Homo sapiens: one gene and its partner. The protein of the gene in region 1 purifies or fractionates together with the protein of each later gene. This does not show direct contact. Each region holds a gene or a part of one and is shown on either strand. Other genes may lie near its edges.

Region 1 (4,537 bases):
CATTGGCCACAACCACGTCTCCCTACTTAGGATGGGTGCCCTGAGGGCAGGGCGGGGAGGACTCCGGGCATGTCCCCAGGAATGGATAAACAATGCCCAGAGTGTCTTGTTAAAGAGCCCCTGGTGACTCCCAGCGGCTGGGTTGCAACCTCTGATTAAACCACCCTTTTCTCTTCCAGCAACAACTAAATGACTCCTCTGTCATCATCAGCGCCCTCAAGACCTACCTGGTGTCGGGGTAAGGAGCCCCTCGGAGACCAGGTGGCCATTGCTTTTGGTGGCTTCCTCCAGGGAGGCCTCCCCTGAGTTCCCTCCTGGGAGCACGTGGAGCTGCTGCTTAGATTTCCAGAGTACAGAGTGGCTCGCACCTGTAATCCCAGCACTTTGGGAGGCCGAGGCAGGCAGATCACCTGAGGTCAGGAGTTCCAGACCAGCCTGGCCAACATGGCGAAGCTCCATCTCTACTAAAAATACAAAAATTAGCCAGGCATAGTGGCGAGTGCCTGTAGTCCCAGCTACTCAGGAGGCTGAGGCAGGAGAATCGCTTGAACCCGGGAGGCAGAGGGTTGCGGTGAGCCAAGATCGTGCCACTGCACTCCAGCCTGGGTGACAGAGCGAGACTCCGTCTCAAAAAAAAAAAAAAATGATTTTCCAGAGTAGCCCGTGGCCGTCCTCCTCCAAGCCCCCTACTTTGTCCTCCCCACACCTCCCTCTCTTGGGGAGGTAGCCCTGGCATCTACTCCAAATCCCTCTTACTGCAAGAGTCCGGAGAGCCTTTGTTGGTCCTGGCTCCACTCTGAGGCTGGGGCAGCGGGGTTGGTCGGCCACAGGGGACGGAGGGGGAAGGAGTTGGGGTGATATTGTGGCTCTCTCCGAAGGCAGCCCCTGGAAGAGATCATCACCTACTACCCAGCCATGAAGGCTGTGAACGAGCAGGGCAAGGAGGTGACCGAGTTCGGCAATAAGTACTGGCTCATGCTCAACGAGAAGGAGGCCCAGCAAGTGTATGGTGGGAAGGAGGCCAGGACGTGAGTGGGGCTGGGGCTGGCGGGGGAAGGTGGTGACCGCAGGGGTCTTCTGTAGAGTAGGACCAAGCTGAGCAAGATGGCGTGAGCAGGGAGCAGCATGGGAGACCAGCGGGGCTGGGGCCGGGCCATGCCGGATTTCAGTAGAGACCTTCCTGCAGCCGGGCGTGGTGGCTCACTCCTGTAATCCCAGCCTGTTGGGAGGCCGAGGCAGGCAGATCACCTGAGGTCAGGAGTTCAAGACCAGCCTGGCCAACATGGCAAAACCCCATCTCTATAAAAATGCAAAAATTAGCTAGGTGTGGAGGCACACACCTATAATCCCAGCTACTAAGGAGGCTGAAGCAGGAGAATCGCTTGAACCCAGGAGGCGGAGGATGCAGTGAGCTGAGATGGTGCCATTGCACTCCAGCCTGGGTGACAGAGCGAGACTTTGTCTCAAAAAAAAAAAAAAGACCTTCCTGCTCAGGCTTCAGCTTCCCGCCCGTGCAGTGGGTATGTTCTAGAGAATGCAGCCTGCTCCCAACACAGCCCGGGTCCTGGCTTAGGAAGTCCCTCCCGTGCCCGCAGGGAGGAGATGAAGTGGCGGCAGTGGGCGGACGACTGGCTGGTGCACCTGATCTCCCCCAATGTGTACCGCACGCCCACCGAGGCTCTGGCGTCCTTTGACTACATTGTCCGCGAGGGCAAGTTCGGAGCCGTGGAGGGTGCCGTGGCCAAGTACATGGGTGCAGCGGCCATGTACCTCATCAGCAAGCGACTCAAGAGCAGGCAAGTGTGTGTGCACATCCGGGGCCTGCTGTCCCCGAGCCTCCGGTGCCACGAGCAGTGGTGATCCCATCACACCCCTCAGGAGACCAGCGGGAGGCCGAGGCCTAGGGCAGGTGGGAAACGCATTATGGATTATGGGTCCCTTGGCCAAGATGGGACTTGGACCCAGAGCTCCTGCTCACCTCCCCTGGGGACAGCAGGGCTGGCCTTGAAGCCGGAAGCCTGGGCCCTGACTGGCGCCTCCTCTGTGGCTTTCTCCCTGGCCTGGTCTCTTGCCTTTACCACAGCCTCCCCGTCTGGGACGGATGCTCCCTGAGGCGTCTGCAGATGTGATGCTCTCACCTGGGGTGCCGTCCTGGCTTCCACACCTCCCCCCTCTCCCCAGAGGAGACCCTCTTCCCTGCTGGGCTGGGAGTGGGGGCTCCCCTGAGGGGCTTTTCCCTTCCCCGCCCAGGCACCGCCTCCAGGACAACGTGCGCGAGGACCTCTATGAGGCTGCTGACAAGTGGGTGGCTGCTGTGGGCAAGGACCGGCCCTTCATGGGGGGCCAGAAGCCGAATCTCGCTGATTTGGTGAGTGTGGTGGTGGCAGGTGGTGCCTGGACCGAGGGTTCTGTCCTCAGAGTGGGGGAGGTTTGCAAGGGAAAGCCTGGACGGTGCTTGCATCTTGCCAGAGGAACCTGCCTCTCTCTGCCATCACGGACAGAAACTCGCCTCGAAGTGGCTCCAGGAGAGAAACAGATGACCAGGAACCGCCTTGGTTCACATAACTGACAAGTTCAGGGAACGGGTTGGCTTCGGGCCCTGCTGGATCCAGAGGCCCGGGTGGTGTTACCAGAGCCCAAGCTCTACCTGTCGCCATCAACACTGCCCTCCCTGGAGTTGGCTTCAGCCTCAGGCGGGCTGGGTCCGGTGCTCCAGGCTTCTCCCAGAAAACCCCTGGGAGGGCGTCTCACTGGCCTGGCTTCACTGCCCTTTTTCCTTTTGTTTTTTTTTGTTGTTGTTGTTTTTGTTTTTTTTTTGAGACCAAGTCTCACGCTGTCACCCAGGCGGGAGTGCAGCGGTGCAGTCTTGGCTCGCTGCAACCTCCGCCTCCCAGGTTCAAGCAATTCTTCTGCCTCAGCCTCCTGAGTAGCTGGGATTACAGGCCTGTGCCACCATGCCCGGCTAATTTTTGAATTTTTAGTAGAGACAGAGTTTCAGTATGTTGGTCAGGCTGGTCTCGAACTCCTGACCGCAGGTGATCCATCCACTTTGGCCTCCCAAAGTGCTGGGACTACAGGCGTGAGCCAGCGTGCCTGGCCCACTGCTCATTTTTAAAACTGTCCTGCCCCTGGGTGACCTGGGTCTTGAAACTGGGTGGTGGGGTCTCTTCTCCCCCATCTCAGGACCTGAGATGAGGGGAGGGCATTTATCCCAAGGAAACTTGCTGGGGGGCAGGGTCTGTGGCCCAGAAAAGGGGGTACAGATGTGAAGCAGGCGAGACCTGCAGCCACCCCACATGCTTTGTTCAAACCCTCACCTGTGCTGTTGGCCCTTGAGTGGGTCACGAGCTCCAAGGGGGGAGGGGACGGGACCTGGCCACACAGCTGGCAGGGAACGAAGGAGGTCTGGATGCCTGTCAAACCAGCTATGGTGACACGTTTCTGTTCGTGCCCCAGGCGGTGTATGGCGTGCTGCGTGTGATGGAGGGGCTGGATGCGTTCGATGACCTGATGCAGCACACGCACATCCAGCCCTGGTACCTGCGGGTGGAGAGGGCCATCACCGAGGCCTCCCCAGCGCACTGAATGTCCCCGCGCAGAGCAGAGGGAAGGCAGCGGAAGACGCCAGCTGCCAGGGCCTGGGGCCACTGGGCCAGCGCCTGGCGATACTGGTTGGGGGCAGGATCATTCTGCCCCTTGTCCACGCACCCCCACCAGCCCTCTCGCTTCTAACACAGGGCACCTGCTGGGGCTCAGGGATGTTAGGGACGAGTTCCAGCCCTGCCACTGCCCTGGGGCGACCCCTCCCTGTCCCTGCCTCCCTGCTCTGCCGCCCCTCTTCCTGGACCCTCAGTGGCTGTCCCATGGCTACATCCTGTGGGTGGGGGCCCTCGACAGGACAGCAGGACGGTTTGTTTTCAGTGGAATCCCATCCCTGGGTTCCCCTGGTTCCCACTCTTCCCAAGCCTCCCGGGACTGGGACATGTTTGCAATAAAGGAAAGGTTTGTGGCGCCTGTCATGGCAGGCATCTCATGGAGCTCCGTGTGGCTGAGTGCTGCGTGGGGCTGGCGGTCAAGGGAGGCATCAGGCTTGGGCTGTGCCAGCCCTTGTGGTAACTAACCGCTGGCCTGGGGCTTCCCAGGTGTCAGGCACGGTACGGCTCCGCAGGCTTTGTGTGGCATCGTCCCCAGGATACCACTCAGGGCACACAGCTGGGCCGTGGAGCCCAGCAGCCAGAGTGCAGGTCGGGGCACCCTACCCACGGTGGGGCTCTGCAGTGGGGTCACTCATCAAGCCTCAGTTTCTTCGTCTGTCCCCGCCTTGTGGGAGAGTTCAGTGATAGGAGCAGGTGCAGTGCACAGAGCCGGGTCACCTGGTCCAGGGCACCAGGCTATTCAGACCCCTGCTCTACAGACAGAACCAAGCCCTCTCAGGTGGCGGCCCCGGGCTTCAGCTCCAGGCTGGGCCAGGCTTTATGGGAGAAGAGGCTCTGCCTTCCAGGGTGAGTGTGGGTTGTGGGTGGGACCCCCTTTCCTG
Region 2 (7,951 bases), on another chromosome or scaffold:
GTGAGTGCTGGGTAAACAAGCGGTGGACGAGATGGGCATGGTCCCTGCTCTCAGGGAACTGAAAGTTGAGGGAGACAGGTAATAAACACGCTTGACATAGCAAGAATAAAACAGGTAGAAATCCCAGTCTGATAAGTACCATTGCAGAAAAGCACAGAGTCCTGTGGAAAAACTAAACAAAGTATTAAATTAGACTGGGAATTTGGCAATGCTGAGATCCAAAGGTTCAGGAAAAGTTATCCAGACATGAAGTGGACAGTTTTCCAGGCAAAGAAAAGAGCACCAGAATGTCCTGAGAGAGGAAAGAGATTGGCTTGGAGAAGAACTGGGAAGGCCCAGGGCATCTTTGAGCCTGGTGAGGGGAGAACAGCCCAAGGTAAGGCTGGGGAACAGGGAACAGGTAAAGCATTCAGACCACCACAGTGGTTCCCCAACCAGAATGGCACCCTCCCTAAGGAGCAATTTGGAAATGTTCGGGGCAATTTTGTTGTCAAATGATTGGGGGAGAGGAGCCAAGGAGGCTCCATGTCTTGCACATTGCAAGATGGTATCACACAAGAAAACTGTCCTGATCCCACACAGCTTTCACATGTCCTACTGAATATTCATATAGGTTAAAAAAAAACTGGTTATAATCATCTGATGTGCCTGTGTCTTATATACAAAAAACAAAGTAATCTTGTAGGGGTGTAAAATGTGCTGAATTTTTAAGGAATGTAACCACCATGTTAACAGAAGGAAGATTATACTTTGTTGTGTTCAGGAATTTATTAGGAATTACTCACCATTTTGGAGAACTGGGTCACTGATAGCAGTGTTATTCATAGCGTTCAGTCTGCATTTGTACTGTCACATTCAAGGTGCTCCTATGCATAACTACTAGCATCTGACTAATTATGCTTTCTAGCATACTGAAAAGTATTATCTTATTATAAAGGATTTCCTTTTATTCTTTCTGCTTTGGTTCAGACACTATAATTTTTTTTGAAATTATGTATGTAGTTAGGCTATACTATCTATAAACTTCATTTCACAATAGTAAATGGGGAGTTATAAAAATGTTATTAAAATGGAACATTGGGGCTGGTAAAGTTAAGAACCACTCAAGAATATCTTGTATGTATATCTTATAGATACCATTCTAGGAGTATATAAGATAGAACTCACTGATATTGCCTACCAGCACCTGTTATCCCTGTTTTAGTCTCATCCTTAGACTGCAACTGAATCTGTTCTCATCAGCTGGCACATGATAGGTTGTAAATGACTTGTTGGAAGAGACTGGGAAACAGCAGATACACTTAGCTCAAGGTCAGAAGATTTCTAGACCAGCGCTGTCCAGTAGAAATCTAGTGCAAGCCACAAATGTGAGCCATATATGTTGTTTAAAATTTTTTAGTAACCACATTTTTTAGAGTTAAAAAAGGTAAAATTAATTTTAATATTTTATTGTATTATTAGATATATCCCAATCATTTCAACATGGAGTCAATATGAAAAATTATTGATGAGATACTTTACATTCTTTTTTTATATGGAATATTTGAAGTCTGATGTGTATTTTACACTTAACAGCAAATCTCAATTCAGACTAGCCACATTTCAAGTGCTCCATAGCCACATATGGCCGGAGGCTACCATACTGAACACTGCAGGTCCAGATCCTTTTCAGTTACTAAGTTCCTAGGTAATTCTCCAAGAGACATTTCCTTCCTTGGGTCTCCGTTTCTTCATAATTTAAACAGAGTCTAAGCCAAATATTCTTGTTTCCAGCACTGACCTTCTGTGATTTTTTTCAAATTTAGCCAGTCCCTTTCTCCTCTCTCTTTACTCACCTCCTTTTCTCCCCCATTTTCCCATTTCTCTTTCCCTGTTTCTTCTCCCCTCATCCCGAGTTCTTTTCTCTGGCTAAACCCAGGGCAGGGTGGGCAGGGGGAGGGATGGTGGCTCACACCTGTAATACCAGGATTTCAGAAGGTCGAGGCAGGAGGATCTCTTGAGCCCAGGAGTTTGAGACCAGCCTGGGCAACATAAGAAGACACCATCTCTATGTAAAATTTAAAAACTGTAGCCAGGTGCAGTGGCTCATGCCTGGAATTGTAATCCCAGCACTTTGGGAAGCCAAAGTGGGCAGATCGTTTGAACCCAGGAGTTCCAGACCAGCCTGGGCAACATGGCAAAACCTCATCTCTGAAAAAAAAAAACAAAAATTAGCCAGGCATGGTGGTGCTTGCCTGTAGTCCCAGCTACTTGGGAGGCCAACGTGGGAGGATCGCTTGAGCCCAGGAGGTCGAGGTTGCAGTGAGCCATGATCGTGCCACTGAACTCCAGCCTAGGCAACAGAGCTGCCCAGAGCTGCTTGTCACCGTAGTTTCCTGATCTGCAAAATGGTAATAATCCTCACCTCGGAGTTTGTTGGGGGTGGGGAGTTTAATGTGATGGCATAAATGAAAAAGCATAATAAATATTGTTATCTGTAACCACACATTTTTAAACGAGGCTGGGAAAGGAGAAGCATATTTCTCCCAGGAGGCACAGGCGCTTGAATCTGTTTCTTTGTTGTGTTTTGTTTTTTGAGACAGGGTCTTGCTCTGTTGCCCAGGTAGGAGCGCAGTGGTACGATCTCAGCTTGCTGCAGCCTTGACCTTCTGGGTAACTGGGACCGCAGCGATGCGCTACCACGCCCGGCTAATTTTTGTATTTTTTTTAATAGAGATAGGACTTCGCCATGTTGCCAAGGCTGGTCTTGAACTCCTGAGCTCAAAAGATCCACCTGCCTCCACCTCCCAAAGTGCTGGGAATACAGTCATGAGCCACCACACTCAGCCAAATGAGTGCTTTTTATGTGATCCACAATCATAAATAACTTTTTTTTTTTTTTGAGATGGAGTCTCGCTCTGTTGCCCAGGCTGGAGTGCAGTGGCGTGATCTCGGCTCACTCCAAGTTCCACTTCCCAGGTTCACGACATTCTCCTGCCTCAGCCTCCCGAGTAGCTGGGACTACAGGTGCCCGCCACCATGCCTGGCTAATTTTTTGTATTTTTAGTAGAGACGGGGTTTTACCGTGTTAGCCAGGATGGTCTCGATCTCCTGACCTCGTGATCCGCTGGCCTCGGCCTCCCAAAGTGCTGGGATTACAGGCGTGAGCCACCGTGCCCGGCCCATAAATAACTCTTTTGCTTCATACAGAAGGGTTTTACAGTCATTTAACTGTATTCTTTTTGTAACTATATTCCCATTTTACAGAGGAGAACATGTACTTTGCCCAAGGCCACACAATGAAGCATAGAACTGGGGTTATGCTCTTAATTATGCTATGCCAAGTGAGGTCTCCACCTAGGTACCCCAGCAACACACGAAAGTCACTTCGTTTAGGGCACTTAATTTCATGGTGTCAAGGTCTGTTTTTTTTGTTTTTTGTTTTTTTAGAGACAGGGTCTAGTTTTGTCACCCAGTCTGGAGTGCAGTGGTTTGATTATAGCTCACTGCAGCCTTGAACTCCTGGGCTGAAATGATCCTCCCACTACGGCCTTCCAAAGTGCTTGGATTACAGGTGTGAGCCACCACACCCGGCTTGTTTACTTTTCACATGTTCCTTCTTTATTATGAGCTCCCTGAGGTCAGGGAGTGACTTTGCACCATTGCAACTCCAGCACATATATCTGAGCCTGACAGATAGTAGGCACTTCGTTGGTGGAGGATATTCTAGGAAAATGTATGTTCAAAGGCATGCAGGTGTAAAATAGCACGCTTAATCTCCGAACTATTTAAGTAGGTAAGTTCTACTGAAGTATGAGTTTGAGAAGAAAAACTAATTCTCATTGTTTGAGTCACGGACTGTGGGCGAAAAGGTGCCACATTTGGAGAATATGCTCAAAGGGAGCAATAGCTTCCTTTGCTGCCCCAAACGTCACTGATGGTGAGGCTTCTGCTGCACAGGAGCCTGGAGAAGTAACAAAGATCACAAAGGGCCTGCCTTGTACTTGAGGCTAAACATTTGGAGTTTACAATGTAGGTAATGTGAAGTCCTTGAGAGATTGTATTTATTTTTAAACCATCCAGCCCAAAATGTCATGTGAGAGATTTTAAACAGTGAGACTCAAAGGGAAAGTAACGGGCCCGGTAGCATGGCTAACTAATAATAAAACAAATCTCAGCCAAGGGGCCTTTTTATCTCGGGGCCCTTTCCACCAAACTTGCATGGCTTCAGTGGAAACCTAACAATGCGGCAGCGGGGAGGCTAAGCGGCCGAGGTTCCAAAACAACGTCTGGCACCTTCTAAAAGTTTAACAATGAACCAGCCTCTAAAATTAAGGTTTAATGAAACCAAGGCGCTTTCTTTCGTGAAGGAATTCCGTTGGCAACATCTTTGCAGCGATGCCCCGCTTTCTGGAACCCCTCCCTGCCCAGCGCCCCCTTCATTTTAGTCCTCCCCTCACGCTCCCACCTCTCCTCTCCCATTGTTTCGATCTACTCCCGCTGAGGCAAGCTGGGAAGTGTAGTTGCACGCCCTGCTGCCTGAGTCGGTTAGGTAGCTCTAAAAACTCGTAACTCCACAACAGCTCAATGGATTTTCGAGAGGTGGGGTAAAGCCTGAAGGCTCAGCCGGTTTATCCAACGAGCAATCTGGGATTTGCAGTTTCCAGCGCCCGAAGTGCGCCCGCTAGCAGAGAGCTCTTGGACTCTAATCCCGCCCCCTCCCCGAGCCTCGCGCATCCTGATGGCGTCACGCGGCCCCGCGAGGTCTGTGGGATACATAGTAGTCCTCAAGGCGGGTCTCACTCTTGGCCGCTGCAACTTGAGGACTACACTTCCAAGGAGGCAGCGCGGCGCGCCGAGAACCACCCGAGGCCGTGATTGGCTGGTGAGCCGGCCGCACGCGGAGGATCCTAAGGAGCAGCTCTGTTGCGACATAGGCCGAGCAGCGAGGCCCAGTGAGTTAGGGGAAGGGGAGCTGTAGGGAGAGGGTCCCCGCCGGTGAGGGGGAAAGAGAATTAGAAGAGGAAGCAGGGACGGGGTTTGGATGGAGGGCTCTGCGAGGGGGAAGATAGGGCTAAGGGAGAGAAGCTGACGGGCGGGGTGGGGGAGGACCCGGGGGTGACGAGCGTGGAGACTCGGAGGGGACTCACGCGGGCGAGGACGAGTGCGTCCCGGCAAGAGGCTGGGCTCGACGGCCGGGTGATGTGGAGAGGGACGATCGAGAAGAGGCCCGAGACGGACGGGAGGAGGAAGCCCGGAAAGTGAGGCGGCTAGCTGAGTGCGGAGCGCCAAGTTGTAGGGAAACCGGAGACGGAGACCTCCGCTGAGGGGCAGAACCTGGTCCCCAGCCGGAGGCCCTGAAAGAAGGAGCGTTTCCAAAGTGAGGCAGTCCGTGGGGGACTGGTGCCTGTGGGAAGAGATGTTAAGATTAGAAGAGCCGCTGAGAATCGGCATTGGTTTGGGATACCCTGACCAAGTTGGAACAGACGAGGCGGGGGCAGGCCAGGGCATCAGAGGCTTGATGTTGATACGAAGATTCCTGAGAGGGATGGAGCAGGGCCCAGGCATTCTTACTAGTAAGTTTAGGGTTTGGGGGTATCTGTTTGCCTTCCTTCAGGCTCCCTGAAACAACAGTAACCTACCCCTGTGGGTCATCATCATGCCCTCCGACCTGGCCAAGAAGAAGGCAGCCAAAAAGAAGGAGGCTGCCAAAGCTCGACAGCGGCCCAGAAAAGGACATGAAGAAAATGGAGATGTTGTCACAGAACCACAGGTGGCAGAGAAGAATGAGGCCAATGGCAGAGAGACCACAGGTGAATTGAGGGAGGGGTGAGTTGGGGATGGTTGCTAAGACTTAATGCATGCCCCAGCCAGAGTTGGAATCTTGATGCTGGGGGTAGTGGAGAATGTATCTGGTGTCATGCAACTTTTCATGATGAATCAAATCAGTAGAGTTGGAATTCGTGCCACCCTGTCATTGCGCAAGGAAGCCGAAGACGAGGTTCTCACATACTCAGTGGCAAGCGGATGTGAGAGTTGCTGAGCTGCCTTGCTGCTCTATTAGATTGTGAGGAGGGGATCAGTTCCCTGCCCCTTTCTCAGTTTCCATTTCTATGCATGGTGACCAATGTGCCAGGTTCTTTGCTACATTATACAATAAGCTTGTCCTCTCACTGGTGTAGTGGCTCTACCTACAAGAGAGTAACTTATGAGTTGATTTATGGGGTTTTTCCTGGGAGAGAGCTCCCTTTCTGTTATTTATATTTTGGGAAATATTTATTATTTCTCAAGTGCTAGACATGGTGCTATACACTGAGGCACTACCGTCTTCCCTCCAAAAACTTACCGTCTAGACTGGGAAACATGGCCATATGCGGTAAAGACTATTCCAGGCCCTTGGCAGTCCAATCCCAGCCCTCTTCCCTGCCCCCTGAAAACTCCCTAAACAGCCTTCTGCTCCATCCAGACTATTTATTATCTCTTGGATAGTCACCACATCTCTGTCCTTTCACACACTGAATTATAATACCATCATGTTTTTGCTAGCTACATTTGACATTTCTGTCAAGGCCCAGCTCAAGATAATGAAGCGTCTCTCAGTCAAACCTGACCACAGTATTTCCATTCTCTATACCCTTTTGCTGTCTTTTAGTGTTACTTACCTTTTTATGTTGTATCTCCTGTTTCTTTGTCTAAATTGTTTCATCTTTGAGTGCAAGGACCCTGTCTTGGGTTTTTTTTATGACTTGCTTCTCAGGTAGACACTAAGTAAATGTTTGAAGAGGAAAGGAGAATTAGTCTGCAAGTTGTAACAGATAGGCGTTCAGAAAAGGGGGACTTAGAAAGCAATTAGAAAGAGCAATAAAGTCAGGCTGTGGGGAAGTTTTATTCCTGGCCACAGTAGTGGAGGACAGAAGTTAAGAGTGATGGGAGTAAGTAAACAGATATGGGAGGACAAAACAAAGGAAAGCAGGGTGTCGGGGCAGCTCTGTGTCATTGTGCACTCTGTAAAGTTTGGGAAACATCTGAGTGCTCAGCAGGATTGGAGCCTGGTCCTTCAGGACGTTGACCTTTGTGGAGAGCCGAGTCTGTCTCACGCCATCTTCCCAAACTGCTTTTCTATCCGCAGAAGTAGATTTGCTGACCAAGGAGCTAGAGGACTTTGAGATGAAGAAAGCTGCTGCTCGAGCTGTCACTGGCGTCCTGGCCTCTCACCCCAACAGTACTGATGTTCACATCATCAACCTCTCACTTACCTTTCATGGTCAAGAGCTGCTCAGTGACACCAAACTGGAATTAAACTCAGGCCGTCGTTATGGCCTCATTGGTTTAAATGGAATTGGTGAGGCCTTGGAAGGGGAGGTGGGAGGTATCTCTCCTTAGCTCATCTGTCACTCACAAGCATTTATTTAGCATCAACTGTGTTCAGAGCAAAGCATTTAGAATAGGGATGGGAGACCAGATTATGTCCAGGGGAAAGGAACTAGCAACGCAGAGCAGTATGTGTTATGTACAGGTTGAGTATCCCTTATCTGAAATGCTTGGAACCAGAAGTGTTTCGGATCTTGGAATATTTGCATTATACTTACCGGCTGAGCATCCCTAATCCAAAAACCTGAAATTCTCCAGTGAGCATTTCCTTTAAGCATCATGTGAGCACTTAAAAGGTTTTGGATTTTGGAGCATTTTGGATTTTCAGATTAGGGTGCGTCCACCCTGTACCACATGATTAGTTACAGCAGGTGCTGGAGAAGTTGGTCAGGGGCGTGTGAAGCTGTGGTAAGTGAAAAAAGCTTCAGATAAGGGGTGGGGCAAGAATTGGAGGAAAGTTAGAAAGGAATCCCAAGAATGGGGGCTGGCAAGATTTGAACGAATGAAGGGAAGAAAGGTCCTCAAAAAAAAAAAAATGGATGAGGTCCCAGTTTGACTGGGGTGGAAGAACTAGTGGTGAAGAGGGATAGGGGAGTTCACT

What was found.
Region 2: the proteins of PTGES2 (region 1) and ABCF2 purify together in Homo sapiens (affinity purification with mass spectrometry; 2 studies listed by BioGRID). This does not show direct contact.

What each region holds. Positions count from the first base shown.
Region 1 is NC_000009.12:128,120,193-128,124,729, reverse strand, and holds the end of PTGES2 (prostaglandin E synthase 2), read left to right. Parts: intron 1-179; coding exon 180-238; intron 239-878; coding exon 879-1,028; intron 1,029-1,595; coding exon 1,596-1,796; intron 1,797-2,083; coding exon of another isoform or gene 2,084-2,129; exon of another isoform or gene 2,130-2,244; intron 2,245-2,250; coding exon 2,251-2,368; intron 2,369-3,456; coding exon 3,457-3,585; 3' UTR 3,586-4,037; downstream 4,038-4,537. UniProt on the Homo sapiens protein: Isomerase that catalyzes the conversion of PGH2 into the more stable prostaglandin E2 (PGE2) (in vitro). The biological function and the GSH-dependent property of PTGES2 is still under debate.
Region 2 is NC_000007.14:151,224,146-151,232,096, reverse strand, and holds the start of ABCF2 (ATP-binding cassette sub-family F member 2), read left to right. Parts: upstream 1-4,891; 5' UTR 4,892-4,934; intron 4,935-5,596; 5' UTR 5,597-5,638; coding exon 5,639-5,792; intron 5,793-7,108; coding exon 7,109-7,321; intron 7,322-7,951. Other genes in the region: ABCF2-H2BK1 (ABCF2-H2B protein), read left to right, coding at 5,639-5,792, 7,109-7,321.